Linked DNA regions of Homo sapiens. The protein of the gene in region 1 purifies or fractionates together with the protein of each later gene. This does not show direct contact. Each region holds a gene or a part of one and is shown in the gene's direction. Other genes may lie near its edges.

Region 1 (4,325 bases):
CATAGATATATTTCAGCTCCTCCAACAGCCAAGCTCGTTCCTACCCCAGGGCCTTTGCACACACTGCTGCCCCTGCTTGGAACTCTCTCCCTCTACTTTCTTTCTTTCTTTTTTTTTTTTTGTTGAGACAGAGTCTTGCCGTGTTGCCCAGGCTGGAGTGCAGTGGCGTGATCTCAGCTCACTGCAACCTCCACCTCCTGGCTTCAAGCGATTCTCCTGCCTCAGCCTCCCAAGTAGCTGGGATTACAGGCGTGCACCACCACGCCCGGCTAATTTTTGTATTTTCAGTAGAGTTGGTGTTTTACCATGTTGGCCAAGCTGGTCTCGAACTCCTGACCTCAGGTGATCTGCCCTCCTTGGCCTCCCAAAGTGCTGGGATTGCAGGCGTGAGCTGCCGCACCTGGCCTTCTCCTTCTACTTACACATGGCAGGCTCCTCTTGTCTGCCATAGGTCATGGCTCCAATCTCACCCCTCCGGGAGGCCTCCATCATCCCCTCACGGTGCCCAGATCTTGCCTTTTGTAGCACTTCAGAATTACTGTATTTCACCAACTCTCAACCCCATACCTTTTCATGCTCTAGCATATCTGAAATCACGCACCTAACGAGGAAAGAGACATCTGGGTCAGTGAAATTCGGTTCATGCCCATGTGTTGTTGGCCTGTCTACTCCTCCCCCTCATTCATTCATTTATTCATTCAACACTCATTTATTGGGCACCTGCTGTGTGCCAGGGTCTGTGCCGAGCGCCAGGAACAAAGTCCCTGGCCTCATGGAGCCCACAGTCTAATGGGAAGTGGAGAATAGTGGTAGTCAGGCAGGTGCACGGGCCCCCGAAGTCAGGCAGGAGAGAGCCCCTGGGGCAGTGGCGCAGGAGGGAGGGCTATAGGTAGCTGGGGTACGGTGACATCAGGCAAAATACTGGTGGCGCTGAGGTCTGAGGATGAAGGGTGTCGCCGGCCATGAGACTGTAGGAGCAGAGGCCTTGAGCTGGGACTGAGCTGGGGGTGTTTGCAGGATCAGACAGGAGGCGGGCGTGCTGGGCTGGGGAGCAGAGCCCGGAGTAGGAGGGGAAGAGGGGGGTGGGGCAGCATTTTTCTGTGTGGCATCTTTCCTCCTGGAGGGTGGGGTGCCCCGTAAGCACAAAGATTGCTTCTGGGAGTGCATGACAGGCAGGCCTCACCTACTCAGGGGGCTTCCCAAGCAGGCGACCCTTGGACTGAGCCCCAGGAAGATATGAATGAGAACACGAAGTTCTCAGGTAGAGGAAATTTGGACACAGGGTGGGGCAGCCTGCCTCTTGAAGGAGGGAGCTCCCCGTTGCTGGAGGCAAGCAAGCAGTGATCTTGCAGGATGCCGCAGGGACAGCCTGCCAGTGGGAGCCAGCGTCCCAAGACAGCTCACATCCCTACATGCTGCCCCGCAGGTGTAAGACGTGCGGAGAATACATCTACAAGGGGAAGAAATTCAATGCTCGGAAGGAGACGGTGCAGAACGAGGTCTACCTGGGCCTGCCCATCTTCCGCTTTTACATCAAGTGCACGCGCTGCCTGGCAGAGATCACCTTCAAGGTAGGTGAGACGGCCGGCCAGGCCGGTCCCTCTCCCCCAGCACACCTCAGATCAGGGCGGGCCCTGGGGTTCCTTAACTCCAATCCTCTCCATCCAGGGAATCTCATTTCAGTTTATCCCCAAGAAACAGACAACAGTTTGGGGGAGATGTTCATGGCAGCATTCTAAATAAAGGCAAAAAGACAGAAGCAACCTAGATAGATAATAATAAGGGATGAGAAGAACAAATTAGCATGCAGGCTGGGCATGGCTCACACCTGTACTCCCAGCACTTTGGGCGGCCAAGGCGGGCAGATCACCTGAGGTCAGAAGTTCAAGACCACCCTAGCCAACATGGCGAAATGCCATGTCTACTAAAAATACAAAAATTACTGGGCATGGTGGCGGACTATAATCCCAGTTACTCGAGAGGCTAAGGCAGGAGAATCACTTGAAGCTGGGAGGCAGAGGTTGCAGTGAGCGAAGATTGCACCGCTATACTCCAGTCTGGGTGACAGAGCAAGACTCCAACTAAAAAAAAAAAAAAAAAAAGCCAGGCACAGTGGCTCATGCCTGTAATTCCAGCAGGTTGGGAGGCCAAGGCAGGAAAGAGAGCCCCTGAGGTCAGGAGTTTGAGACCAGCCTGGCCAACATGGTGAAACCCCGTCTCTACTAAAAATACAAAAGTGAGCCAGGCGTGGTGGCTCATGCCTGTAATCTCAGGTACTTGGGAGACCAAAGCAGGAGAATCGCTTGAACCCGAGAGGGAGAGGTTGCAGTGAGCCAACATTGCGCCATTGCACTCCAGCCTGAGCAACGAAATGAAACTCTGTCTCAAAAAGAAAAAAAAAAGTAGCGTGCAATGGAATATTACACAGCCAATAAAAATTGCAATTTGACTTTTATTTGTTACCTTGAGAATTTAAGGAAAGACTGAAGATAACTTAAAATTTTCTCTTCCTATGCTTAAGTACTCTTTGAATACTTTTTTGCCATAAGCTTTTTTTCTTTGATTAAAAAAACATTTTGGGCTGGGCGCAGTGGCTCACAGCTATAATCAGCACTTTGGGAGGCCAAGGCAAGTGGATCAGTTGAGGTCAGGAGTTCGAGACCAGCCTGGACAACATGATGAAACCCCAACTCTACTAAAAAAAAATACAAAAATAGGCCGGGCGCAGTGGCTCACGCCTCTAATCCCAGTACTTTGGGAGGCTGAGGCAGGCGGATCATGAGGTCAGGAGATCGAGACCATCCTGGCTAACACAGTGAAACCCCGTCTCTACTAAAAAAAAAGCAGAAAAAAATTAGCCAGGCGTGGTGGCGGGTGCCTGTAGTCCCAGCTACTCGGGAGGCTGAGACAAGAGAATGGCGTGAACCCAGGAGGCGGAGCTTGCAGTGAGCTGAGATCGCGCCACTGCACTCCAGCCTGGGCGACAGAGCGAGACTCCGTCTCAAAAATAAATAAATAAATTAATAATAATAATAATATTTTGGCTGGGTGCAGTGGCTCACGCCTGTAATCCCAACACTTTGAGAGGTCAAGGGAGAAGGATCGCTTAAATCCAGGAATTCAAGACCAGCTTGGGCAACATAGTGAGATCCCGTCAGTACAAAAAAATATAAAAATTAGCTGGGCATGATGGCATGCGCCTATAGTCCTAGCTACTTGGGAGGCTGAGGCAGGAGAATCAATTGAGTCTGGGAGGCCAAGGCTGCAGTGAGCCATGATTTCACTGCTATACTCCAGCCTGAGTGACAGAGTGAGACCCTGTCTGCAAAAAAACAAACAAAAACTTTTTTTGAAATACCTGAAGATTTACAGAAAAGTTCCAAAGATAGTACAGATAATTCTCACCTACCCCCTCACCAACTTCCCCGAATATTAGCATCTTATATAACCAGGGTACATCTGTCACAGTAAGATACTAAGGGTGGGGCCAGGCATGGTGGCTTACTCCCAGCGCTTTGAGAAGGCAAGGCAGGAGGATTGCTGGGGACCAGAAGTTCAAGACTAGCCTGGGCAACATAGTGAGACCCTGTCCGTGTCTACACACACACACACACACACACACACACACACACACACAAATTTTAATTAAAAAAAGAAACTAAAGGTGGAATGTTACCATTAACATTGTAGGCTGTGGCTGGGTGCAGTGGCTCATGCCTGTAATCCCGGCACTTTGGAGGCCAAAGCAGGAGGATCGGTTGAGTCCAAGAGTTAGAGACCAGCCTGGGCAACATGGCGAAACCCTGTCTCTACCAAAAAGAAATTTAAAAATTAGCCAGGTGTGATGGTGCATACCTGTAGTCCCAGCTACTCGGCAGGCTAAGGTGAGAGGATTGCTTGAACCCGGGAGGCTGAGGTTGCAGTGAGCCATGATCCTGCCGCTGCACTCCGGCCTGGGCAACAGCACGAGACCCTGTCCCCAAAAAAATAAAAAACATAGTGTTACTATTAGCATTTAGACCAAAGGTAGATTTCAGTTTTTCTGCTAATGTCACTTTTCTGTTCCAGTGTGTAATTTAAGATACCAGGGTGTATTTAGCCTCTCTATTCAATAAACAAAAACAGGGGCATGCTGTATACATATTTGTACATGTGATTTATAATCAAAGAAAAGGTGTTAATAAATACAAAGGGCAGAAATCACAACATGTGCAGAACCTTGGAGATTTTTTTTTTTTTTTGAGACAGGGTCTCACTTTGTAGCCAAGGCTGGAGTACAGTGGTGTGATCTCAGCCTCCCAGGTTCATGTGATTCTCATGCCTCA
Region 2 (4,325 bases), on another chromosome or scaffold:
ATTATTTTAGGAGGCAGAATGCTTTAGTGCTGGGGTTGGTGAACTTTTTCTGTGAAGGACCAGATAGTAAATATTTTAGCTTTGTGGGCCATATAGTCTCTGTCACAGCTATTCAGCTGTGCTGCTGCAGTGCAAAAGCAGCTGCAGAGAATTCATAAATGAAGCCTCTTTTCATAAACAGGTGGTGGGCTGCTGTAGTTTGGCAGCTTGTTTTAGTGGAAAAGGAAATAACCTCAGGATGGAGCTCTAATCCCAGCTCTGTTCCTAGCACTTTGTGACCTCTGATAAGTCCTGGAGCCTCTCTGCCTGTTGGCTCTTTGATCTGTACAGTGAAGGTGTTGGCGTAGATGATGTCTTAGGTTCCTTTCAATTCTGTAATTTTTTATTTTTTATTTTTATTTTTATTTTTTTTTTGAGATAGAATCTCGCTCTGTCGCCCAGGCTGGAGTGCAGTGGTGCAATCTTGACTCACTGCAGCCTCCGCCTCCTGGGTTCAAGTGATTCTTCTGCCAAGTAGCTGGGACTACAGGTGCCCGCCACCACGCCTGGCTAATTTTTTTGTATTTTTAGTAGAGATGGGGTTTCACCATGTTGGCCAGGCTGGTCTTGAACTCCTGACCTCAGGTGATGTGCCCACCTTGGCCTCCCAAAGTGCTGGGATTATTGGTGTGAGCCACTGCACATGGCCCTATTTTTTTTTTTTTGAGACAGAGTCTTGCACTGTCGCCTGGGCTAGAGTGCAGTGGCGTGATCTCGGCTCACTGCAACCTCCGCCTCCCGGGTTCAAGCAATTCTCCTGCCTCAGCCTCCCAAGTAGCTGGGATTACAGGCATCTGCCACCACGCCCAGCTAATTTTTGTATTTTTAGTAGAGATGGGGTATCACCATGTTGGCCAGGCTGGTCTCAAACTCCTGACCTTGTGATCCGCCCACCTCAGCCTCCCAAAGTGCTGGGATTACAGGCGTGAGCCACTGCGCCTGGCCTCCACATGGTCCTATTTTAATTCTTTTAATTAAAAAAAATTTTTTTTTTTGAGACGGAGTCTTACTTTGTCGCCCAAGCTGGAGCACAGTGGGGCGATCTTGGCTCGCTGCAGCCTCCACCTCCCGGGTTCAAGTGCTTCTCCTGCCTCAGCCTCCCAAGTAGCTGGGACTACAGGTGTGTGTCACCACGCCCGGCTAATTTTTATATTTTCAGTCTCTACTGGGTTTTGCCATGTTGGCCAGGCTGGTCTTGAACTCCTGACCTCAAACGATCCGCCTGCCTTGGCCTCCCAAAGTGCTGGGATTACAGATGTGAGCCACTGCACCCAGCCTGTATGTTTTTTTAAAAAAAAATTAAAGTAGGATCTCACAGTAAATGTATGTGTATACTTTCTTATCATGTATGGTACTTTAGTTTGAAATTTGAAAATGGAGCATTTATAGTGTTACTGTAAGTTCATTTTGCTGCCTTTTCAGTGGAGAAGAGTTTTTCCCAACATCCAATAGTCTTCTTCATGGAACACATGTGCCTTCCACAGAGGAAATTGACAGGATGGTCATAGATCTGGAAAAACAGTAAGTATTCAGTAGAGCAGCTTGACGTTGTAAATACTTCATGACAAAATGCACTTAGAATATGCACCTATATCTGACGTGCTTAGAATGAATTCAAAAGATAGAAATTGTACAGTTATACTTGCTAATTTTTGACCTGTCTATAGTGGCTTGGGGATGGATAGCAAGTGTGGGTTGAATATATCTGATTTGGAATGGAGATGAAGAATGTTGATGAAACTGAATTGTTAATATTGAAGGGGAAAGGTCTAAAAAAAATGATCCTTCTTTAAGGATTTTACTTTAACCACTCCCCTGTTTGATTTGAAGAAGCAAGAATGTTGTAGTAAATGTTCCTCGCTTAGGTTTGTGTTTCTTAATACTGATAGAGGCGACTATTAGGTAGAGCAGAATGAAAATATATTTTAGGAGTTAATACATGAAAAGTATTAAGAATAGTGTCTGGGCTGGGCGTGGTGGCTCCTGCCTATAATCCTAGCACTTTGGGAGGCTGAGGCAGAAGGATTGCTTGAGCCCAGGACTTTGAGAACAGCCTGGGCAACATGGCAAAACCCTTTCTCTACAAAAAATATACAGGAATTAGCTGGGCATGGTGGTACGTGCCTGTAGTCCTAGCTACTTGGGAGACTCAGTCAGGAGGATCACTTGAGTCCAAGAAGTGGAGGGTGCAGTGAACTGTGATTGCATCACTGCACTCCAGCTTGGGCGACAGAGCGAGACCCTGTCTCAGGAAAAAAAAAAAGTGTCTGGCACATATTATGTGCTCAGTATTAGCTGTGGTTATTATTTAATATAATTTTTTTTTTTTGAGACGGAGTCTCACTCTATTGCCCAGGCTGGAGCGCAGTGTCACGATCTTGGCTCACCACAACCTCCACCTGCCAGTTTCAAGCGATTCTCTTGCCTCAGCCTCCTGAGTAAATGGGACCACAGGCGTGTACCACCACTCCTGGCTAATTTTTGTATTTTTAGTAGAGACGGGGTTTCGTCATGTTGACCAGGCTGGTCTCAAACTCCTGGCCTCAGGTGATCTACCTGCCTTGGCCTCCCAAAGTGCTGGGGTTACAGGCATGAGCCACTGCGCCTGGCCTATTTAATATTGTTATAGTTATCTTCTTTTTTAGAAAATGTATTCAAAAAAATTTTTTTTATAGTGATGGAGTCTTCCTATGTTGTCCAGGCCCTGGTCTGGAACTCCTGGGCTCAAGTGATCCTCCCAGAGGACCTTTTGGGAGGCCTTGTCCTCCAAAAGTAGTGGGATTACAGGCATGGGATTACAGCCGCCATGCCCAGCCAATAGTTATCTTCTTCAGTACAGTCAAGTTCCCAACAATGAGTCATCGCTCTAGCATTCTGAAGATGAATTTGTATTTACTGGATTTCACAGTTCATATTCTGAGTTGTGCCATTAATTCAGTTTCAACTTTAACTTGATGAAAACTCTCCTGGCTTCCTCTAGCCCTCACAACATGTGCTATTCTAAACGTGATTATATTCCTGTTTGGTTGTGTTTTATTAAGATCAAAAGAGAAGGCAATTTTGAATTTTGTAAATTTTCTTCTTTCCCCAGGATTGAAAAACGAGACAAATATAGCCGGAGACGTCCTTATAATGATGATGCAGATATCGACTACATTAATGAAAGGAATGCCAAATTCAACAAGAAAGCTGAAAGATTCTATGGGAAATACACAGCTGAAATTAAACAGAATTTGGAAAGAGGAACAGCTGTCTAATCCCTTCAAGAACTGTTTATAGAAGCTTGAGAATGGGGTAAAAATTTCTGCTAGCAAAATCAAGTTCTTTTTGAAATTTTATCAGTAATCCAGAATTTAGTAGTCCATGCCTTCTCACTCAGCATTTAGAAATAAAAATGTGGTTTCTTAAACGTATATCCTTTCATGTATATTTCCACATTTTTGTGCTTGGATATAAGATGTATTTCTTGTAGTGAAGTTGTTTTGTAATCTACTTTGTATACATTCTAATTATATTATTTTTCTATGTATTTTAAATGTATATGGCTGTTTAATCTTTGAAGCATTTTGGGCTTAAGATTGCCAGCAGCACACATCAGATGCAGTCATTGTTGCTATCAGTGTGGAATTTGATAGAGTCTAGACTCGGGCCACTTGGAGTTGTGTACTCCAAAGCTAAGGACAGTGATGAGGAAGATGGCAGTGGCCACCGGAGGACTGGAGCAGTCCCTCCTCATGGCGGCCTGTGACCAAGGTCGGGGAGGAGTGGAGCTATCCTTCCATGATCTGATCATGTACAGTTCCCTTTTTAAAAAGCAATAAATGCTTGGGATTAGAATTTCTAACATTTTTAGTCTATCATTTAAAACAAACATTTGTATATATACATTTGTTTATATACATACATGCTTCCATTCTACAAACACTGAAAGAATATTTTATTATGGGAAATTCCATACACCCAATACCCCTGGTGAGTCCCATATACCCAGTACCCTGTTCAACAATCATTAACTCATGGCCAGTCCTGCTTCATCTTTATTTCCATTTACTTTCTTCATGACTCTTATTTTGACGCATATACTAGATATATAATTTCATCTATAATTATTTTAGTATGTATCTCTGAAAGATAAAGACTTAAATGACCACAATACTATTATCACTGCAATAGATTTATTTTTATAAAACTCCAGAGGGAAAGGTTGTTATTTTTTCTCTATGTTGAATTAAATGCTAAATATCTAATTGGGATATTTTAAATTCAAAGAAATCTGAAGCTCAGAA
Region 3 (4,325 bases), on another chromosome or scaffold:
ACCCACCGTGGAAACTCTACAGGGTGAGTGACTCTGCATTTATTTTATTATGTGAACCATGATTGCTTTGTAGTTGACAAGCACTGAAGAATAGAATAAGGAGGAAAAAGAGTGAATATGAAAAGCTGGTAGAGCGATCTGAGGTGGATTGAGAAGAGTCGTAGGGAGTATCTTAAAAGATCTCTTGGGAAGGTGACTTCCTTAAGCAAAAGTTATACTTTTATATAAAATAGTATGAAATGTCAAGATAAAGCTACTAAATATGGATGGCAGACTAAATAAATGTAGAAAAAGTGTTCAAAGTATTTAGTTTGAAGGTGAAGGGGAAAAACACCATATAAAGAAATTTATTTGGGCCTACCAGTTACTCTTTCAACTACAATAAATGAAAATGATTCAGAGTGTATCATCTAAAAGAAAATGGACATGCATGCTAACTTCAGCAGCACATACACTAAAATTGGAATGGTACGGAGAAGATGAGCATGGCCCTTCCACAAGGATAACACAGATTCGTGAAGTGTTCCATACTGTTTATTTTGCATTGCTTGCCTATACCAAAATATCTCATGTACTCCATAAATACATTTCTACTGTGTACCCACAAAAATTAAAAACAGAAAATTTTAAAAAAGAAAATGTACATAGTAGGAAATGTACAGCTACACATAATTTAATATGTATCTTAAAAATTTCATTTTTCAAATGATTGTACAGTAAGAGCCTTTTTGTTTGACATACAGCTCTAATGAATTGTAATAGATGTATTGATTTGGGTAACCACTACCACAATTAGGATATAGATGTTACACCACCTCAAAAAACACCCTTGTGCTATTCGTTTGTAGTTACACTTTCCTTCACCTCTGACAATCACTGATCTGTTTTCTATCACTATAGTTGTCTTATTTTTTTTCAATAATTTCAGTTCTAATTTATTTTTAATTTTTATGGCTAACATAATAGATGTGCATATTTATGGGCTACATATCAAATTTGATACAAGCATACAGTGTGTAGGCCAGGCATGGTGGCTCATGCCTATAATCCCAGTGCTTTGGGAGGCCTAGGCAAGCGCATCTCTTGAGCCTAGGAGTTCAGTACCAGCCTGGGCAACACAACAAAACCCCGCCTCTACAAAAAAATACAAAAATTGGCTATGTGTAGTGGAGCACACCTGTAGTCCCAGCTACTCCAGAGGCTGAAGTGGGAGGATCACTTGGGCTCAGGAGGCGGAGGTTGCAGTGAGCCAAGATCACGCCACTGCACTCCAGCCTGGGCGACAGAGTGACACCCTATCTCAAAACAAAAAACAAAGAAAAACATACAGTGTGTAATGATCAAATCACGGTAATTGGGATATTATTTCTTTGTATTAGGAACATTCCAATTTTACTCTTCTAGTTATTTTGAAATATACAATAAATTACTCTTAACTGTAGTCACTCTATTGTGCTACCAAGCTAACTAGCCAAACTAGTGCTACCAAACTAGCTAACCAAACTAGTGCTACCAAACACTAAATCTTACTCCCTTTATCTATTTTTGTACCCGTGATCCACCTCTTCTTTATCTTCTGCCTCCCCACTATTCTTCCCAACCTCTGGTAGCCATCATTCAACTCTGAAGATCATTTATTTTTTAGCTCCCGTATATGAGAGAGAGCACGCAATATTTGTTTTTCTGTGCCTGGCTTATTTCACTTAACATAGTATCTTCCAGTTCCATCCATGTTGTTGCAAATAACAGAATTTCATTCTTTTTTATGGCTGAATAGTATTCCATTGTGTGTATGTACCACATTTTATTTATCCATTCACCTCATGATGGACACTTAGGTTGGTTTAGCTGTGTCTTTTTGACTATGTCATATAAATGGAATCATACAATATGTACTTTTTGAGACTGGCTTCCTTCACACAGCTTAATACTTTGTGAGTCATTGAAGTTGTTGCAAGTATTAATAATGTATTCCTTTTTATTACTGAGTAGTTTACATTATATAGATGAGCCACAATTTGTGTTAACTATTAACTCACTGAAGATAATTTCATATTATTGTAAAATGTAATAGTCATTATCTTTTATGATTTGAAGATGGGAGGGCAATTCAAACTCGGGCTGCAGTTAAACTTAAATACATTTTAACTTCTACGTTGGCCTGCCCATTCTACTTTGTTTTATACAGGTTATCAGTGGGCATCTTGGCTGGGTTCGATGTATTGCTGTGGAACCTGGAAATCAGTGGTTTGTTACTGGATCTGCTGACAGAACTATAAAGGTAATAATGAAGGAAGAAAAAATAAACATGACTTTGTGTTTGTCATGTAAGTTTAATCAGTTATTATTTCCTGTGGCAGGAATTGCTATTGCAGTTCCTCTGTTATTTTAGACCTGAATAAGGAGTAAAATTTATCATTTATACTAATAAGTGTTCTAAATAAATATCTGTTTGAAAAGTGCTATTTAAACCACTTTTTCTTTACCTACTGAATACCTACCACTAATTCCTTTATACTTACATTGTTCTCTCCAACTGGTTACAAAATTAAGAGCATGCTCATTCATAGAAAATGTGGAAAATATAGAGAATTAGGAAAGTACATAGACCTGTATATAATCCTACCATTGTTAGATATTTGGATAAGTTTCGTTTTAGTATTTATTTCTGTAAGTATCAATACCTTCACTTCTAAGCTCTTTTCCTGTGTGTGTATCTTTTAAAAAATCATTCTTAGTATGTAATTTTGTATCTTGCTTTTTTCACTTAACGTTGTATCAAAGGCATATTCCTGTGAAAAATTTACCATCTTTTAAAGTGGTTGCATAATATTATATCATTTAGATAGTCTGTAATCTGTTTTCCTATTACTGGACAGTAGAGTTTTTAGTCTGATTTTCACCATTACAAGTAATGCTGTTAAGTTTTGTATATAAGACTTTTTCTGTATTTTAAATTATTTTGTTATGGTAGAGTTCCATAAATGGAATAAATGGGTCAAATATTTTTGAAGCTGATACCCAAAGTACAAATTACTTTCCAAATGGGTGAATCGATACTTGCAGTGTATGAGAGGATCCTTTTCAGCACATTGGTTGTACATTCCTTTACAAATATCTAATATGGTAAGCAAAAATGGATACTTAATCTTTTTAAAAAACTTTGTATGAAATTTCTAATGAGTGTGAACTTTTTCATATCTGTATTTGCTGCTTTTAGGATTTCTTTAAGTTGTTGCCAGCCTCAGTTAATTTAATACCATACTTTTCTTACTGTTATTATCAAAGATATCATTTATATAACAAGAAGGTTAACCTTTTGTCATCTAATTGCAAATATTTTTCCAGTTTGAGCATGCCAGTTTTTTTCTTGCTTTTATTTGGAGGGGAGTCATTTTGCAAAATTTTTTATTTTTACGTATTTGTTATCTTTTTCCTTTTGTCTTTGAAAGCTCAGTTTTAATAATCAGGTTTCTAAAATTTTGTTTTGCAGTAACCAGTGAAAGAAAAAAATAAATATTCTTTGATTGCAGATCTGGGACTTGGCTAGTGGCAAATTAAAACTGTCATTGACTGGGCATATTAGTACTGTGCGGGGCGTGATAGTAAGCACAAGGAGCCCATATCTGTTCTCTTGTGGAGAAGACAAACAAGTGAAATGCTGGGATCTCGAATACAATAAGGTAAGTTTGGAGTTAAGGATTTAAAACATTGTGAACTACTATTTATCTTTCTAATTCTAGAAGTTTTAACTTTCCTGCTTTGTCTTTAGGTTATACGGCATTATCATGGACATTTAAGTGCAGTGTATGGTTTGGATTTGCACCCGACAATCGATGTGTTGGTAACCTGTAGTCGAGATTCAACTGCACGGGTAAATGGGATAGAGTTGTGTATTTATCTGTAAATATATTGCATCTTGTAGGGTGCACTTTCGGTTTCAGTGTCTTCAATTGATTGATAGAGAATTAAAGATAGCTGTCTTGAGTCATCAATATCCTAGTCCCTAAGTTTCTTAACTTGCATTTTTTTCCACCTTAGTCTTCAGTTGTATGGCCTCACCATGTTAGTGTTATTAGTGCCCTGCCCCTGAAATGTGATATTCTCACGTTCCATTCTGTAACAACTATTGTCCATTAGTTCTTTCATTCAGTAGTCTTAAAAAGTAGTCCCATCATACTCATTCTTAGATTTTCAGTACCCTGATCTTTTAGCTTTTTAGAATTCTTGCAAGTTGTCTCCTATTTATATTCGTCCTCCAGTTTGTAAATCATTATCTTTCACTTAAGCATTTTCTTTATTATATTCAGGCACTAGTTATGTAG
Region 4 (4,325 bases), on another chromosome or scaffold:
ATCCTGGCTAACACGGTGAAACCCCGTCTTTACTAAAAATACAAAAAATTAGCTGGATGTGGTGGCAGGCGCCTGTAATCCCAGCTACTTGGGAGGCTGAGGCAGGAGAATGGCATGAACCCAAGAGGTGGAGCTTGCAGTGAGCTGAGATCGCGCCACTGCACTCCAGCCTGGGAGACAGAGCGAGACTCTGTCTCAAAAAAAAAAAAAAGATCAATAAAATTGATAAACTTCTAGTCAGACTGACCAAGAAAAAATATACACAAATTAAGAATATTAGGAACCAAATTGGGAATATTACTATAGAATCTATATACATTAAAAGGATAATAAGGAAATATTACAGACAATGTTATGCCCATAAATTTGACAACTTAGATGAAATAGGTCAATTCCTTACAAGACACAAACTGCCAAAGCTCACTTAAGAGAAGTGGTCCTTTTTTTTTTTTTTTTTTTTTTTTGAGATGGAGTCTTGCTCTGTCACCCAGGCTAGAGTGCAGTGGCGAGTTCTCGGCTCACTGCACTGGGTTCAAGCAATTTCTCCCTGGGTTCACCTCCCTGGGTTCAAGCAATTTCTCCTGCCTCAGCCTCCCGAGTAGCTGGGATTACAGGCACCCTCCATCATACCTGGCTAATTTTTTTTTTTTTTTTTTTTTTTGAGACAGAGTCTCGCTCTGTCACCCAGGCTGGAGTGCAGTGGCGCCATCTCAGCTCACTGCAGGCTCCGCCCCCCGGGGTTCACGCCATTCTCCTGCCTCAGCCTCCCGCGTAGCTGGGACTACAGGCGCCCACCCCCTCGCCTGGCTGATCTTTTGTATTTTTAGTAGAGATGGGGTTTCACCGTGTTAGCCAGGATGGTCTCGATCTCCTGACCTCGTGATCCGCCCGCCTCGGCCTCCCAAAGTGCTGGGATTACAGGCGTGAGCCATGGCGCCCAGCCAAATTTTTGTAATTTTTTAGTAGAGACAGGGTTTCACCATGTTGAACAGGCTGGTCTTCAATTCCTGACCTCAGGGGATCCACCCTCCTCGGCCTTCCAAAGTGCTAGGATTACAGGTGTAAGCCACAGTGCCTGGCCGAGAAATAGTTCATTTTGTTTTGTTTTGTTTTGTTTTGAGACAGAGTCTTGCTCTGTTGCCCACACTGGAGTGCAGTGGCATGATCTTGGCTCACCGCAGCCTCTGCCTCCCGGGTTCAAGCGAATCTCCTGCCTCAGCCTCCTGAGTAGCTGGGCCTACAGGCGCCCACCACCATGCCCAGCTAATTTTTTTTTGTATTTTTAGTAGAGACGGGGTTTCACCATGTTAGCCAGGATGGTCTCGATCTCCTGACCTCATGACCTGCCCACCTCACCCTCCCGTAGTGCTGGGATTACAGGCTTGAGCCACTGCGCCCAGCCCTGAAGAAATTTTTGATTGTTACAACTGGAAGGGTGCTACTGGCACATAGTGGGTAGAGGCCAGGGATGTGCTAAGCCTCCTACAAATAATTATCCTAAATAAACTACAGTGTCAATAATTCTACTGTTTAGAGACACAGTTCAAAAAGAAATGGTAAACCTGAGTAGTCCTATATCTGTTAAAGAAATTGGGGCTGTGCACCGTGGCTCACGCCTGTAACTGCAGCACTTTGGGAAGTGGAGGTGGGTGGATCACCTGAGGTTAGGAGTTCAAGACCAGGCTGGCCAACATGGTGAAACCCTGTCTCTATGAAAAATACAAAAATTAGCCAGGCATGGTGACGCATGCGTGTAATCCTAGCTACTTGGGAGGCTGAGGCAGGAGAATCACTTTAACCCAGGAGGCAGAGGTTGCAGTGAGCCAAGATTGGGCCACTGCACTCCAGCCTGGGTGACAGAGCGACAGTCCATCTCAAAAAAAAAAAAAAAAAAGATGGAAAGAAATTGAATTCATTTCTAAATACCTTTCTAAAAGAAAATTCCAGACCCAGATGGCTTCACTGGTCAGTTCTACTAAATATTTAAGGAAGAAATAATACCAACTCCACATAGTTTCCTCAAGAAAATGGAAGAAGAGGGAACACTTTGTAACTCATTTTGTGAATTTTAGTATCAGCATTACCCTGATGCTAAAATCAGAAAAAGATATTATGAGAAATAACTACTGACAATATTTCCTATGAATATAGACAAAAATCTTTAATGAAACATTAGCATATCAAACCTAGCAATGTATGGCCGGGCGCGGTGGCTCACGCCTGTAATTCCAGCACTTTGGGAGGCCAAGGTGGGTGGATCGTGAGATCAGGAGATCGAAACCATCCTGGCTAACACACGGTGAAACCCCGTCTCTACTAAAAATACAAAAAAATTAGCCGGGCGTGGTGGCAGGTGCCTGTAGTCCCAGCTTCCTGGGAGGCTGAGGCAGGCGAATCGCTGGAACCCGGGAGGCGGAGCTTGCAGTGAGCCGAGATTGCACCACTGCACTCCAGCCTGGGCGACAGAGCGAGACTCCGTCTCAAAAAAAAAAACAAAACCTAGCAATGTATAAAAAGGATAATACATCACAACTAAGGAGGATTTATTCTGGAAAAACATAGTAGATTCAGCATTCAAAAATAAGTTAATTCACTGTGTCATTCCAAAGAAGAAAAACTGTATGATCTAAGTAGATGCAGAAAAAGTATTTGACAAAATTAGACGTTTATTCATGATAAGAACTCAGCAAACTGGGAATAAAAGGGAACTTTTTACCCTGATAAAGCACTTCTTTTTTTTTTCTGAGACGGAGTTTTGCTCTTGTCACCCATGCTGGAGTGCAGTGGTGCAATTTCAGCTCAATGCAACCTCCGCCTCTCAGGTTCAAGTGATTCTCCTGCCTCAGCCTCCCGAGTAGCTGGGATTACAGGTGCCAGCCACCACGCCTAGCTAATTTTTGTATTTTCAGTAGAGACAGGGTTTTACCATGTTGGCAAGGCTGGTCTCGAATTCCCAACCTCAGGTGATCCACCCACCTTGGCCTCCCTAAGAGCTGGGATTACAGGCATGAGCCACCACACCCGGCCCTGATAAAGTACTTATAAGAAACCCATAGCCAATAAACTATTTAATGGTGAAGGATTGAATGCTTTCCTCTTAAGATCAGGAACGAGGCAAAGACATCCACTCTCACCACTATATTCAGCGTGATGCTGGAAATCCTAGCCAGTGCGGTAAAGTAAAAAAAGGAAATAAAAGGCATAAAGATTAGAAAATAATAAGTAAAACTGTCTTTATTGTAACATAGAAAATCCTATATAATTTTCTTTTTTTTGAGATGGAGTCTCGCTCTGTCACCCAGGCTGAAGTACAGTGGTGCAGTCTCGGCTCACTGCAACCTCTGTCCCCTGGGTTCAAGCGATTCTCCTGCCTCAGCCTCCTGAGTAGCTGGGACTACAGGCATGTGCCACCATGCCCGGCCAATTTTTGTATTTTTACTAGAGACAGAGTTTCGCCATGTTGGCCAGCCTGGTCTCGAACTCCCAACCTCAGGTGATCCACCCGCCTCTGCCTCCCAAAGTACTGGGATTACAGGCATGAGCCACCATGCCCACCTAAAATCCTACATAATTTTCTATGTAGAAAATCCCAAGGAACCTACAGAAAGACTTCTAAAATGGATAAGTGAATTTATCAAGATCACAGAAAAGAAGTTCAATATACAGAATTATATATATACACACACACCCCATATATATTCATATATATATTTTTATATATTTATATATATTTTTATATATTTATATATTTTATATATTTATATATATATATATTTTTTTTTGAGACAGAGTCTTCCTCTGTCACCCACGCTGGAGTGCAGTGGCCCAGTCTCGGCTCACTGCAACCTCTGCCTCCCAGGTTCAAGCTATTCTGCCTCAGCCTCTCGAGTAGCTGGGACTACAGGCATCCACCACCACACCTGGCTGATTTTTGTATTTTTAGTAGAGACAGAGTTTCACCATGTTGGCTAGGCTGGTCTGGAACTTCTGGGCTCAAGTGATATCTGCCTGCTTCAGCCTCCCAAAGTACTGGGATTACAGGTGTGAGCCACCATGCTCAGCTTCAAAATTATATTTTTATATACTAACATTGAACAGCTGGAAATACAACATTTTTTTAAAGTGCTATTTACAAAAGCACCAAAACACAAGAAATAACTTAGGTATAAATCTTTTTAATTTTAATTTTATTTATTTATTTTTTTGAGATGGAGTCTTGCTCTGGCGTCCAGGCTGGAGTGCAGCTCACTGCAAGCTCCGCCCCCCAGGTTCATGCCATTCTCCTGCCTCAGCCTCCCGAGTAGCTGGGACTACAGGCGCCCACC
Region 5 (4,094 bases), on another chromosome or scaffold:
CTAAATTCATAAAAAACTTTTTCTTCAGTAATAAGCCTTAGCTGACTTTTACTTTATAAACTTAAAAAAATGGATTCTTTTGTAATAACATTTAACTTAAAACTAAAACACATTGTACAGCTGTACAAAAATATTGTCTCTCTTTACATCCTTGTTCTATAAGCTTTTTTCTAATTTTTTTATTTTTATTTTTTACTTTTTAAACTTTTCTTGTTAAAAACTAAGACACAAGCACACATTACCCTAGGCCTACACAGGATCAGGATCACCAACTGTATTAGTCCGTTCTCACACTGCTATGAAGAACTGCCTGGGTAATTGATAAGGGAAAGAGGTTTAATTGACTCACAGTGACTCGGGAGGCCTCAGGAAACTTACAGTCATAGCAGCAGGGAAAGCAAACATGTCTTTCTTTACATGGCAACAGGAGAGACAAATGCTGAGCAAAGGGGCTAAAGCCCCTCATAAAACCATCAGATCTCGTGAGAACTCACTATCATGAGAACAGCATGGGGGTAACCACCCCCATGATTCAGTTACTTCCCACTGGCTCCCTCCCACAACACGTGGGGATTATGGGCACTACAATTCAAGATGAGATTTGGGTGGCGGCACAAAGCCTAACCATAGCACCAACATCACTGTCTTCTACCTCCACATCTTTTCCCACCGGAAGGTCTTCGGGGGCACCAACATGCATAAACCTGTCATCTCCTATGATGATAATGCCTTCTTCTCGGATACCTCCTGAAAGGGCCTGCTTGGTGCTGTTTTACAGTTAACTTTTTTTTATAAGTGGGAAGAGTATATTTAATACCAAAAAAAGTATAGTATAGGCATACCTTGTCTTATTGCACTTAGCTTTATTGTATTTTATGGATACTTTGCTTTTTATAAATTGAAGGTTTTTGGCAACCTTGCCCCAAGCAAGTCTGTCAGTACCATTTTTCCAACAACATGTGTTCACTTTGTGTCTGTGTGTCAAATTTTGGTAATTCTTACAGTATTTCAAACTTCTTCATGATTTATTGTGTCCGTTAGTGATCTTTGATGTTGCTATTGTAATTGTTGGGCGGGGGGGCACCATGAAATGTGCCCATAAAAGTTACTGAATTTATTTGATAAATGAAATGCTGTGTGTGTTCTGACCACTCCACCCACCAGCCGTTCCCCATCTCTCTCCCTCTCAGACTTCCCTATTTCCTTAGACACAACAATATTGAAACTAGGCCAGTTAATAACCGTATTATGGCCTCTCGGTGTCCAAGTGAAAGAAAGTGTCCCATGTCTGTTACTTAAAATCCAAAGCTAGAAATGATTGAGCTTAGTGAAGAAGGCATGTGAAAAGCCAAATAGGCCAAAAGCTAGGCCTCAACACCAAATATTAGTCAAGTTATGAAAGCAAAGGAAAATTCTTGAAGGAAATTAAAAGTGCTACTCCAGTGAACGCACAAATGATAAGAAAGCAGAACATCCTTATTGCTGATATGGAGAAAGTTTCAGTGGTCTGGATAGAATATCAAACCAGCCACAACATTCTTTTAAGCCAAACCATAATCCAGACCAAGATCCTAACTCTTGAATTCTGTGAAGGCTGAGACAGGTGAGGAAGCTACAAAAGAAAAGTTTGAAGCTAGCAGAGGTTGGTTCATGAGGTTTAAGGAAAGAAGCCATCTCCATAACAGAAAAGTACAAGGTGAAGCAGCAGATGCTGTTGTAGAAGCTGCAGCAAGTTATCCGGAAGACCTAGCTAAGATCATTGACGGTGGGTACACTCAACAACAGATTTTCAATGTAGACGGAATAGCCTTCTATTGGAAGAAAGTGACATCTGGAACTTGCACAGCTAGAGAGAAGTCAATGCCTGGTTTCCAAGATGCAAAGATCAGAGTGATTCCCTTGTTAGGGACTAATGCAGCTGGTGATTTTACATTGAAGCCAAAGCTCATTTAGCATTCTGAAAATTGTAGGGCCCTTAAGAAGGTGGGGCTAAATCTACTCTGCCTGTGCTCTGTAAATAGAACAACAAAGTCTGGATGACAACACATCTGTTTACAGCATGGTTTACTGAATATTTTTTAAGCCCCCCATTAAGAGGTACTGTTCAGAAAAATAGATTCCTTTCAAAATATTACAGTGCACCTCATTACCCTAAAGCTCAGATGGAGATGTTTCATGCCTGCAACATCCAATCTTCGGCTTATGGATCAAGGAGTAATTTTGACTTTCAAGTCTTATTACTTAAGAAATACATTTTATAAAGCTATAGCTGCCCTGGATAGTGGTTCCTTTGATGGATCTGGACAAAGTAAATTGAAAACCTGGAAAGGATTCACCATTCTACACGCCCTTAAGAACATTTGTGATTCATGGGAGGAGGTTAAACTATGAACATAAAGAGGAGTTTGGAAGAAATTGATTCCAACCCTTCAGCCCTCATGGATGACTTTGAGGGATTGAGGACTTCCATGGAGGGAGTAACTGCAGATGTGGAGGAAATGGTAAGAGAATTAGAATCCAAAGGGGAGTCTAAAGATGGGACTGAATTGCTGCAATCTCATGTTAAAACTTTAATGGATGAGGAGCTCTTAGGGATGACCAAAGAAAGTGGTTTCTTGATGGAATCTTCTACTGGTGAAGATGCCGTGAACATTGTTGAAATGATAATGAAGGATTTAGAATATTACATAAACTTAATTGATAAAGCAGGTGCAGAATTTGAGAGGATTGATTCCAGTTCTGAAAGTTCTACTGTGGGTAAAATGCTATCAAACAGCATCCATCACAGAGAAATCTTTTGTCAAAGGAAGAATCAAATGATGTGGCAAACTTCTTTGTTGTCTTATTTTAAGAAATTGTCACAGCCACTTCAGCCTTCAGCAAACACCACCCTTGTCAGTTAGCAGCCATCGACATCAAGGCAAGACCCTGCTGGTGGGTCTTGGAAAAAGATGACAACTCACTGAAGTGTCTGATGGTTGTTAGCATGTTTTAGCAATAAAGTATTTTTGATTAAGGTATGTACATTGTTTACTAGACATAATGTTATTACACACTTAATAGACTACAGTATAGTGTAAACATAACATTTTTTTTTGAGATGGAGTCTTGCTCTGTCGCCTAGGCTGGAGTGCAGTGGCACGATCTTGGCTCAATGCAACCTCCACCTCCCAGGTTCTAGCACAGGTGGGCACCATCACACCCGGCTAATTTTTGTATTTTTAGTAGAGACGGGGTTTCCCCATGTTGGCCAGGCTGGTCTTGAATTCCTGAACTCAAGCGATCCACCTGCCTCGGCCTCCCAAAGTGCTGGGATTACAGGCATGAACCACCATGCCTGGCCAACATAACTTTTATATGTAGTGAGAAACCAAAAAAATTTGTGTGCCTTGCCTTATTGCAATATTTGCTTTATTGGTAGCCTGGAGCTGAACCAGCGATGTCCCTGAGATATGTCTGTACATAAACCAGTAACGTACTGTACCTAATTATGTTATACTTTTTTTTTTTTTGAGATTGAGTCTTGCTCTGTCACCCAGGCTGGAGTGCAATGGCATGGTCTTGGCTCACTGCAACCTCCGCCTCCTGGGTTCAAGTGATTCTCCTGCCTCAGCCTCCCGAGTAGCTGGGACTTCAGGCGTGTGCCACCACATCTGGCTAATTTTTTTTTTTTTGTACTTGTATTTGTAGTAGAGATGAGGTTTCACTATGTTGGCCAGGCTGATCTCAAACTCCTGACCTCGTGATCTGCCCACCTCGGCCTCCCAAAGTGCTGGGATTACAGGCGTGAGCCACCGCGCCTAGCTATATTATACTTTTATACAACTGGCAGTGTAGTAGATTTGTTTATACCTGTATCCCCACAAACGTGAATAATGCATTGCATTGTGACATGATGATGGTTATGACATCACTTGGTGATAGGAATTTTTCAGCTCCACTGTAATCTTATGGGACCAGTGTTTGTGTGGTCCGTCGCTGACATGTCATTATGTGACACATGACTCTATGGCATCCTGAACTGCAGAAGGGAGTAGGGGCCTAAGGCTTCTAGGGGGTGGTGGTGACACAAGTTATGTGGGGGGATGGGGAGG
Region 6 (3,074 bases), on another chromosome or scaffold:
TAACTTTATTTAGTTAGGAATACCTGAAAAACTATTGTTTCTAACTCATGGAATTCCTGGGTTATTTCTTAGAAGAAGAAGGATGTGTTGCTATCTCAATAATATTATCTTTTTTGTCTTGTGTTTCACGTGTTATTTGTTGGACACATTGATTTATTGCAGAATACATACAAATCTGTACAGATGATGAGGCAATACAATTCCTTTAATTTTGCCTTGCTGGAGGATGTACAGGCCAAGGTCCTGGAAATACCATACAAAGGCAAAGATCTAAGCATGATTGTGCTGCTGCCAAATGAAATCGATGGTCTGCAGAAGGTAAGAACTTGCATCTACAACTCTTCCTTCTACTGCCGGACATTTTTCCAAAGATACCAAGTTTAAACAAGGTAAAAGCTTATGACCGAGTTGCCTCAAAATGATGAAAAATTCTAAATGAGGAATGATGACTCACCTTCATATTACAAATATTTGAGCATAGGGCCTGACACAAACTGAAAGCTTAGTTTTTGTTTGTTTGTTTGTTTTTATTATTATTATTATAATACTTTAAGCTTTAGGGTACATGTGCACAATGTGCAGGTTAGTTACATATGTATACATGTGCCATGCTGGTGTGCTGCACCCATTAACTCGTCATTTAGCGTTAGGTATATCTCCTAATGCTATCCCTCCCCCCTCCCCCCACCCCACAACAGTCCTCAGAGTGTGATGTTACCTTCCTGTGTCCAAGTGTTCTCATTGTTCAATTCCCATCTATGATTTAATTCCATCTATGGCTTAGTTAATGATTAATTTATTAGAGTTACATGCATTGGATATCAATTTGATGATATTATTATGCAGCAATTTAAACTTGACTGGGAGAAATATATACCAATGTGAGGAAAGTTTACAAATAGGCCGAGTAGAAAAGGGAATACAAATTTAGGAATTTAGGGAATTACAATTTAATAATTGCAATGTGTACTAAATAATGTATACAGAAAAATATGATGAGCCTATTAAAAATTGACACATGTAGTAGGCTGTTGGCACAAGAAATAGTGATACATACAGTTCATTGTGTACAAAATAATGTAATCATATTTTACATGTGTATCATACAGTTGTATACATACATATGTACACATATACATATACGTAAAAACATGATTCTGTTTTTACATACATGTATATACATATACACATATAACCCAATGTATTTATATATTCAGGACTCATATTTTACCTATTAGAATAATAATGTCTATTAAAGTGAACCTTCTGTATTTCACATTTATTGCCAAAATAACGAATCTCCACATAGTCAATTCATTGTTAAGGTGTATTAGAGATCGACAGTTAGTCATATCAGTTTCTTTTTTCCATTTGTATAGCTTGAAGAGAAACTCACTGCTGAGAAATTGATGGAATGGACAAGTTTGCAGAATATGAGAGAGACATGTGTCGATTTACACTTACCTCGGTTCAAAATGGAAGAGAGCTATGACCTCAAGGACACGTTGAGAACCATGGGAATGGTGAATATCTTCAATGGGGATGCAGACCTCTCAGGCATGACCTGGAGCCACGGTCTCTCAGTATCTAAAGTCCTACACAAGGCCTTTGTGGAGGTCACTGAGGAGGGAGTGGAAGCTGCAGCTGCCACCGCTGTAGTAGTAGTCGAATTATCATCTCCTTCAACTAATGAAGAGTTCTGTTGTAATCACCCTTTCCTATTCTTCATAAGGCAAAATAAGACCAACAGCATCCTCTTCTATGGCAGATTCTCATCCCCATAGATGCAATTAGTCTGTCACTCCATTTAGAAAATGTTCACCTAGAGGTGTTCTGGTAAACTGATTGCTGGCAACAACAGATTCTCTTGGCTCATATTTCTTTTCTATCTCATCTTGATGATGATAGTCATCATCAAGAATTTAATGATTAAAATAGCATGCCTTTCTCTCTTTCTCTTAATAAGCCCACATATAAATGTACTTTTCCTTCCAGAAAAATTTCCCTTGAGGAAAAATGTCCAAGATAAGATGAATCATTTAATACCGTGTCTTCTAAATTTGAAATATAATTCTGTTTCTGACCTGTTTTAAATGAACCAAACCAAATCATACTTTCTCTTCAAATTTAGCAACCTAGAAACACACATTTCTTTGAATTTAGGTGATACCTAAATCCTTCTTATGTTTCTAAATTTTGTGATTCTATAAAACACATCATCAATAAAATAATGACATAAAATCATTTTTGCTTTACCTGTTTTCTCTCTGGAAAGGGCAAGTGTCCAGTTACACATAGGAAAGATAATTTAGAGATATATTAATCATATATAAAGGAAAATTAAAAACAGAGTAGTTCATGATGAGCCTGGAGTAGAAGGCATATCCCAGAACAGGAGGAGCCTTGTAAACCACATAGGAACTTCCTATTTTATGCTAAAGGGATAAGAAACTCATTACAGGCTTTGATGGTTGTTTGTCAAAGAGGGGCATAAAATTATCATATCCACATCTAGAAAATACATCTCTGGCTACGCTGATATCAATGGATGCGAGGAAAGAACAGTGTGGTTACCATATATAAATTAGGAAATCATTAGAGTATTGGGAGTGGAAATGGAGAGAAAGAAAGAGCCTGGGGGAATTATTTAGGAAATAATAGTTACAGAAAGACATCTAAGTTGCTGACCTATCTGACTGGATGGATGGAAGAATATCTTGTTTCTGAGAGAAAAAAAGACTTTGGGTTTAAATTTGTACTTGATGAATTAAGGTACTTTTAATATTCAAATGGATTTGCCTGGCAGGCACTTGAAGATATTAGTCTAAATCTCAGAAACAGAATATGATCTGAAGCTCTAAATTTGTGATATTCAATATAAATACTTTAGAGTCATTGGGATAAATATGGTAGTTGTAGCTAAAAGCAAAAATAAGATACTAGGGAGAAAGGATAAAGTTAGAAGAAAGAAGAATCTAGAATTGACCTTGAAGTATATCAGCATGTGTAAAGATCAGGAATTGATCATTTTTATTTTCCAGAAAGTAGCTTTTCTTAGGGTTCCATATTTACTC
Region 7 (4,325 bases), on another chromosome or scaffold:
GTGGTTGAGGAAGGCCTCTCAAAGCTAAGATGAGACTACTCCATGAGCAGGGATTGCCCTTGCCGCTCCATGAACACTGGCTTAGTCTTTGGAGAGAGATGAGCTAAAATTCCAGATTTATCACTTACTGAGCATGTGAGTTAGTTAAGGGTTCCTCCTATGCTACATGGCTCAAGACTACTTATACTGCATTTTTATACTGCCTCGTGTTTAATTGGCTGTTTACTCCTTGTCTGTCACTGCAGAATTTTCTAGCTAGAATGCCCTGGTTTTTTTTTTTGCAGGAAACTAGGTAACTACATTTTCTTAAGATTGTGTGTAATTTAGCAGTAGCCCCTGCAAAATACTTTCTGCAGAAAGAAATGCTTAATACGAAATTTTTTGTTTTTTGTTTTTTGTTTTTTTGTTTTTTTGTTTTTTTGTTTTTGAGATGAAGTCTCACTCTGTTGCCAGGCTGGAGTGCAGTGGTGTGATCTCAGCTCACTGCAACCTCCACCTCCCAGGTTCAAGCAATTCTCCTGCCTCAGCCTCCGAGTATCTGGGATTACAGGCACGTGCCATCACGCCCAGCTAATTTTTGTATTTTTAGTAGAGATGAGGTTTCAACTTGTTGGCCAGGATGGTCTTGATCTCTTGACCTCGTGATCCACCCACCTCGGCCTCCCGAAGTGCTGGGATTACAGGCATGAGCCACCTCGCCCGGCCTAATAAAAACTTTTAAACATTCATGCAGGCTTCTGTAAGGCCTTTGATACTTATTTAGTCTAATTGTTAAGATAGTTGAAACCCTCAGAAAATTAAAATTACATGGAATAACCGAAGTATTACTACAAAGAAATATTTTAAGCAGTTCTTTATCCTCAGGGTAGGAAATGTGCAGAATGGAAATGGGTTAGGACGTTGGCCCTAAAGAGGAACAGCTATACTACATTTACTTGCGAACAGTAAAATTGCTAGAGAAGATAGTGAATATAAAGAAAAGACACTTTGGGAGGCTGAGGCAGGCCGATCACCTCAGGTCAGGAGTTCGAGACCAGCCTGGCCAACATGGTGAAACCCTGTCTCTACTAAAAATACAAAAATTAGCCAGGCATAGTGGCAGATGCCTGTCATCCCAGCTACTCGGGAGGCTGAGGCAAGAGAATCGCTTGAACCCGGGAGGCAGAGATGAGCCAAGATCGCGCCATTGCGCTCCAGCCTGGGGGACAAGAGCGAGACTTCGTCTCACAAAAAAAAAATAAATAAATAAATAAATTATTTCTTGGATTTCTGGAGGCTGGAAAGTGTACGGTTCACAGGCTGCATCTGGTGAGGGCCTTCTTGCTGGTGTGGACTTGGTGTACAGTCCTGAAGCAGCACAGGGCATTACATGGCAAGGTAGGGGCACACAAGAGAAAGACAAACTGGCTTTTATAACATACCCACTCTGGTGATAACTTATTAACCCATGAATGGATTGAGCCTTCATAACCCAATCACCTCTTAAAGACCCCACCTCTTAATACTATTACATTGGGGATTAAGTTTCTGTATGAATTTCAGAGGGGACAAACATTCAAACCATAGCACTGTCGAACTGATTCTGATATGCTTCTGGAATTAAGAACCACTGGTTTAGGATTAATCCTTTTCTCTGTGGGCTCCTTAATACATGCCACTTTTCCTGAATGTGAAGTGAGTGAGTGAGTGTGTGTGTGTGTGCTTCAGATTCTAGAGAGCATTTAACTCAGAGAAGAATTAGGGAAAGGTAAACAATTCATTATAATGGGTAGTGTAGCTTAAATCTGTTCTTTGGTGATTGTTAATTTTTAGTTGTCAACATGATCTTAGAAATCTTTTTTCTGATTTACACATCAGACTGACATAATGAGAAATGAATTTGAAAGACTGGCTGCTCGACAACCAATTGAATTGCTCAGTATGAAACGGTAAGAATATTAAAATGGAAATTAAAATTTAGTTTGTAGTAACTCAGTAATGAGCTGAGATTTGTGAAGAATGTATTTGCTGGCTAATATTGGCAGTGTTGGCCGGGTGTGGTGGCTCACACCTGTAATTCCAGCACTTTGGGAGGCCGAGGCTGGTGGATTGCTTGAATCCAGGAGTTTGAGACCAGCCTGGGCAACATGGCAAAACCCCATCTCTACCAAAAATAATTAATAATAATAATAATAATAATAATAAACGTACCTGGGTGTGGTGGCACGCACCCGTGGACCCAGCTACTTGGAAAGCTGAGGTAGGTGGATCGCTTGACACCCCCCAGGAGATGGAGGTTGCAGCAAGCCGAGATTGTGCCACTGCACTCCAGCGTTGGGGACAGAGGGAGACCCAGTCTTGAAAAAAAAACTATATATATATATATATAGAGAGAGAGAGAGAGAGAGAGAGAGGCAGTGTTGAAGGACTGACTGGGTAGTATGAAGAGAGAATAGAAGGAGTCATATCGCTTCTCATTTTTTTCTCTACCGGCGCATGGGTATGTTAGTGGATGGGTGGGTGTGAGTATTTTACAAAAATGGTAGCAAACTTTTTTGTCTACTGCTTTTTCCCCTTAATATATTACTGACATCTTAATATTATTAAATATTCTTCAGTAACATTTAATAGCTAATGTAACAATCTTTTATGTGAATGTAATGTTGCTTATTTAACCAGTTCACATTGAAGTGAACATAATGGTGCTAAATCATATTTGTAAATTGATTGTTAGCATATATCGGTTTCTTATTATTGCAAGGTTTACATCCTTAGTCTTCTGTAGTTTTTATACTATATGGAGACTCATGGGACATTCTACTGAGAAGAGATGTAAAGGCTTGGCAGTATAGATGGTTTTATTTTATTTTGTTGTTTAATTTCAGATATGAGCTTCCAGCCCCCTCCTCTGGTCAAAAAAATGACATTACTGCATGGCAAGAATGTGTAAACAATTCTATGGCCCAGTTAGAGCATCAAGCAGTTAGAATTGAGAATCTGGAACTAATGTCACAGCATGGATGTAATGCCTGGAAAGTATACAATGAGTAAGAACCTTTTTCTTCATCTTCTGTTTTTTTTGTTTTTTCTCTTTTCTTTCCATCTCACCCAAAGTTTTAGTACATTTTAAAAGTATGGGAGGTGCTGGGTGCAGTGGCTCATGCCAGTAATCCCAGCCCTTTGGGAGGCAGAGGTGGGTGGATTGCTTGAGGTCAGGAGTTCGAGACCAGCCTGGCCAACATGGTGAAACCCCATTTCTACAAAAAAAAAAAATACAAAAAATTAGCTGGGCATGGTAACGTGTGCCTGTAATCCCAGCTACTCTGGAGGCTGAGGCATGACAATTGCTTCAGCCTGGGAGGCAGAGGTTGTAGTGAGCCAAGATTTTGCCACTGCACTCCAGCCTAGGCGACAGAATGAGACTCTATCTCAAAAAAAAAAAAAAAAAAAGAAAAGAAAAAGAAAAGCCGGGCGCGGTGGTTTACACCTGTAATCCCAGCACTTCAGGAGGCCGAGGCGGGTGGATCACCTGAGGTCAGGAGTTTGAAACCAGCCTGGCCAACATGGTAAAACCGCATCTCTACTAAAAAAAAAAAAAAAGATTAGCCGGCCATGGTGGCGCTTCTGTAGTCACAGCTACTCAGGAGACTGGGGTAGGAGAATTGCTTGAACCTGGGAGGCAGAGGTTGCAATGAGCTGAGATTGTGCCACTGCACTCCAGCCACAGTGACAGAGCGAGACTCCATCTCAAAAAACAAACAAAAAAACCCCACAAAGTATGGGTAGGGGAAGTGTGATAAAAATAATATAGCTAGACTTTGTCTTGGGATTATGTTCTAGAACTGCAACCCATATGAAAGGCCACTATTTTGAAACCCACCTCAAAGTTCAAGAGTACTAACAGGACCTAAACCAAACTACGACATTTATTGTATAATATTGTAACAAAACTAGTTCTGAGGTCCCATTTGCAGAGCACCACTTGATAGAATGTTATCAAGCGTTGCTTAAACAGTTGATTCTCATTAGTCATGGGTTATGTTCTTTAAGTCCTATGAACACTGAATTAGCAAATACTGTACCATTTCTCCTAGGGGAAATATATACATATTCATGTGCACACATATACATATCTCTCAAATAGATTATAATCTTAAATCCTAAAATAAACTCATCCTGGTAGACTTCTTTATTTTATAAAAGAGAAAACAAAGTTGAGAAATGTAAAGTAACTTTCTTGAAACTGCCCCACTAACAGATCCCAGACTTGGAACTTGAACTTCATCCTCTGGTTATTTCTGTATGAGAGCTAAAACAAGAAGGCAAAGCACCTCCTTGTTCATCCT

Evidence for each region.
Region 2: the proteins of YJU2 (region 1) and SYF2 purify together in Homo sapiens (affinity purification with mass spectrometry; 3 studies listed by BioGRID and IntAct, with this or other methods). This does not show direct contact.
Region 3: the proteins of YJU2 (region 1) and PLRG1 purify together in Homo sapiens (affinity purification with mass spectrometry; 4 studies listed by BioGRID and IntAct, with this or other methods). This does not show direct contact.
Region 4: the proteins of YJU2 (region 1) and ISY1 purify together in Homo sapiens (affinity purification with mass spectrometry, with the first as the bait; 3 studies listed by BioGRID). This does not show direct contact.
Region 5: the proteins of YJU2 (region 1) and PRPF19 purify together in Homo sapiens (affinity purification with mass spectrometry; 4 studies listed by BioGRID and IntAct, with this or other methods). This does not show direct contact.
Region 6: the proteins of YJU2 (region 1) and SERPINB4 purify together in Homo sapiens (affinity purification with mass spectrometry; 3 studies listed by BioGRID and IntAct, with this or other methods). This does not show direct contact.
Region 7: the proteins of YJU2 (region 1) and BCAS2 purify together in Homo sapiens (affinity purification with mass spectrometry; 3 studies listed by BioGRID and IntAct, with this or other methods). This does not show direct contact.

What each region holds. Positions count from the first base shown.
Region 1 is NC_000019.10:4,249,601-4,253,925, forward strand, and holds part of YJU2 (splicing factor YJU2), read left to right. Parts: intron 1-1,426; coding exon 1,427-1,571; intron 1,572-4,325.
Region 2 is NC_000001.11:25,222,237-25,226,561, reverse strand, and holds the end of SYF2 (pre-mRNA-splicing factor SYF2), read left to right. Parts: intron 1-1,461; coding exon 1,462-1,560; intron 1,561-3,130; coding exon 3,131-3,296; 3' UTR 3,297-4,286; downstream 4,287-4,325. UniProt on the Homo sapiens protein: Involved in pre-mRNA splicing as component of the spliceosome.
Region 3 is NC_000004.12:154,540,143-154,544,467, reverse strand, and holds part of PLRG1 (pleiotropic regulator 1), read left to right. Parts: coding exon 1-23; intron 24-2,188; coding exon 2,189-2,281; intron 2,282-3,533; coding exon 3,534-3,683; intron 3,684-3,772; coding exon 3,773-3,874; intron 3,875-4,325. UniProt on the Homo sapiens protein: Involved in pre-mRNA splicing as component of the spliceosome. Component of the PRP19-CDC5L complex that forms an integral part of the spliceosome and is required for activating pre-mRNA splicing.
Region 4 is NC_000003.12:129,150,579-129,154,903, reverse strand, and holds part of ISY1 (pre-mRNA-splicing factor ISY1 homolog), read left to right. Parts: intron 1-4,325. UniProt on the Homo sapiens protein: Component of the spliceosome C complex required for the selective processing of microRNAs during embryonic stem cell differentiation. Required for the biogenesis of all miRNAs from the pri-miR-17-92 primary transcript except miR-92a.
Region 5 is NC_000011.10:60,892,922-60,897,015, reverse strand, and holds part of PRPF19 (pre-mRNA-processing factor 19), read left to right. Parts: intron 1-4,094. UniProt on the Homo sapiens protein: Ubiquitin-protein ligase which is a core component of several complexes mainly involved pre-mRNA splicing and DNA repair. Required for pre-mRNA splicing as component of the spliceosome.
Region 6 is NC_000018.10:63,636,429-63,639,502, reverse strand, and holds the end of SERPINB4 (serpin B4), read left to right. Parts: intron 1-162; coding exon 163-318; intron 319-1,379; coding exon 1,380-1,784; 3' UTR 1,785-2,244; downstream 2,245-3,074. UniProt on the Homo sapiens protein: May act as a protease inhibitor to modulate the host immune response against tumor cells.
Region 7 is NC_000001.11:114,574,291-114,578,615, reverse strand, and holds part of BCAS2 (pre-mRNA-splicing factor SPF27), read left to right. Parts: intron 1-1,857; coding exon 1,858-1,928; intron 1,929-2,864; coding exon 2,865-3,026; intron 3,027-4,325. UniProt on the Homo sapiens protein: Required for pre-mRNA splicing as component of the activated spliceosome. Component of the PRP19-CDC5L complex that forms an integral part of the spliceosome and is required for activating pre-mRNA splicing.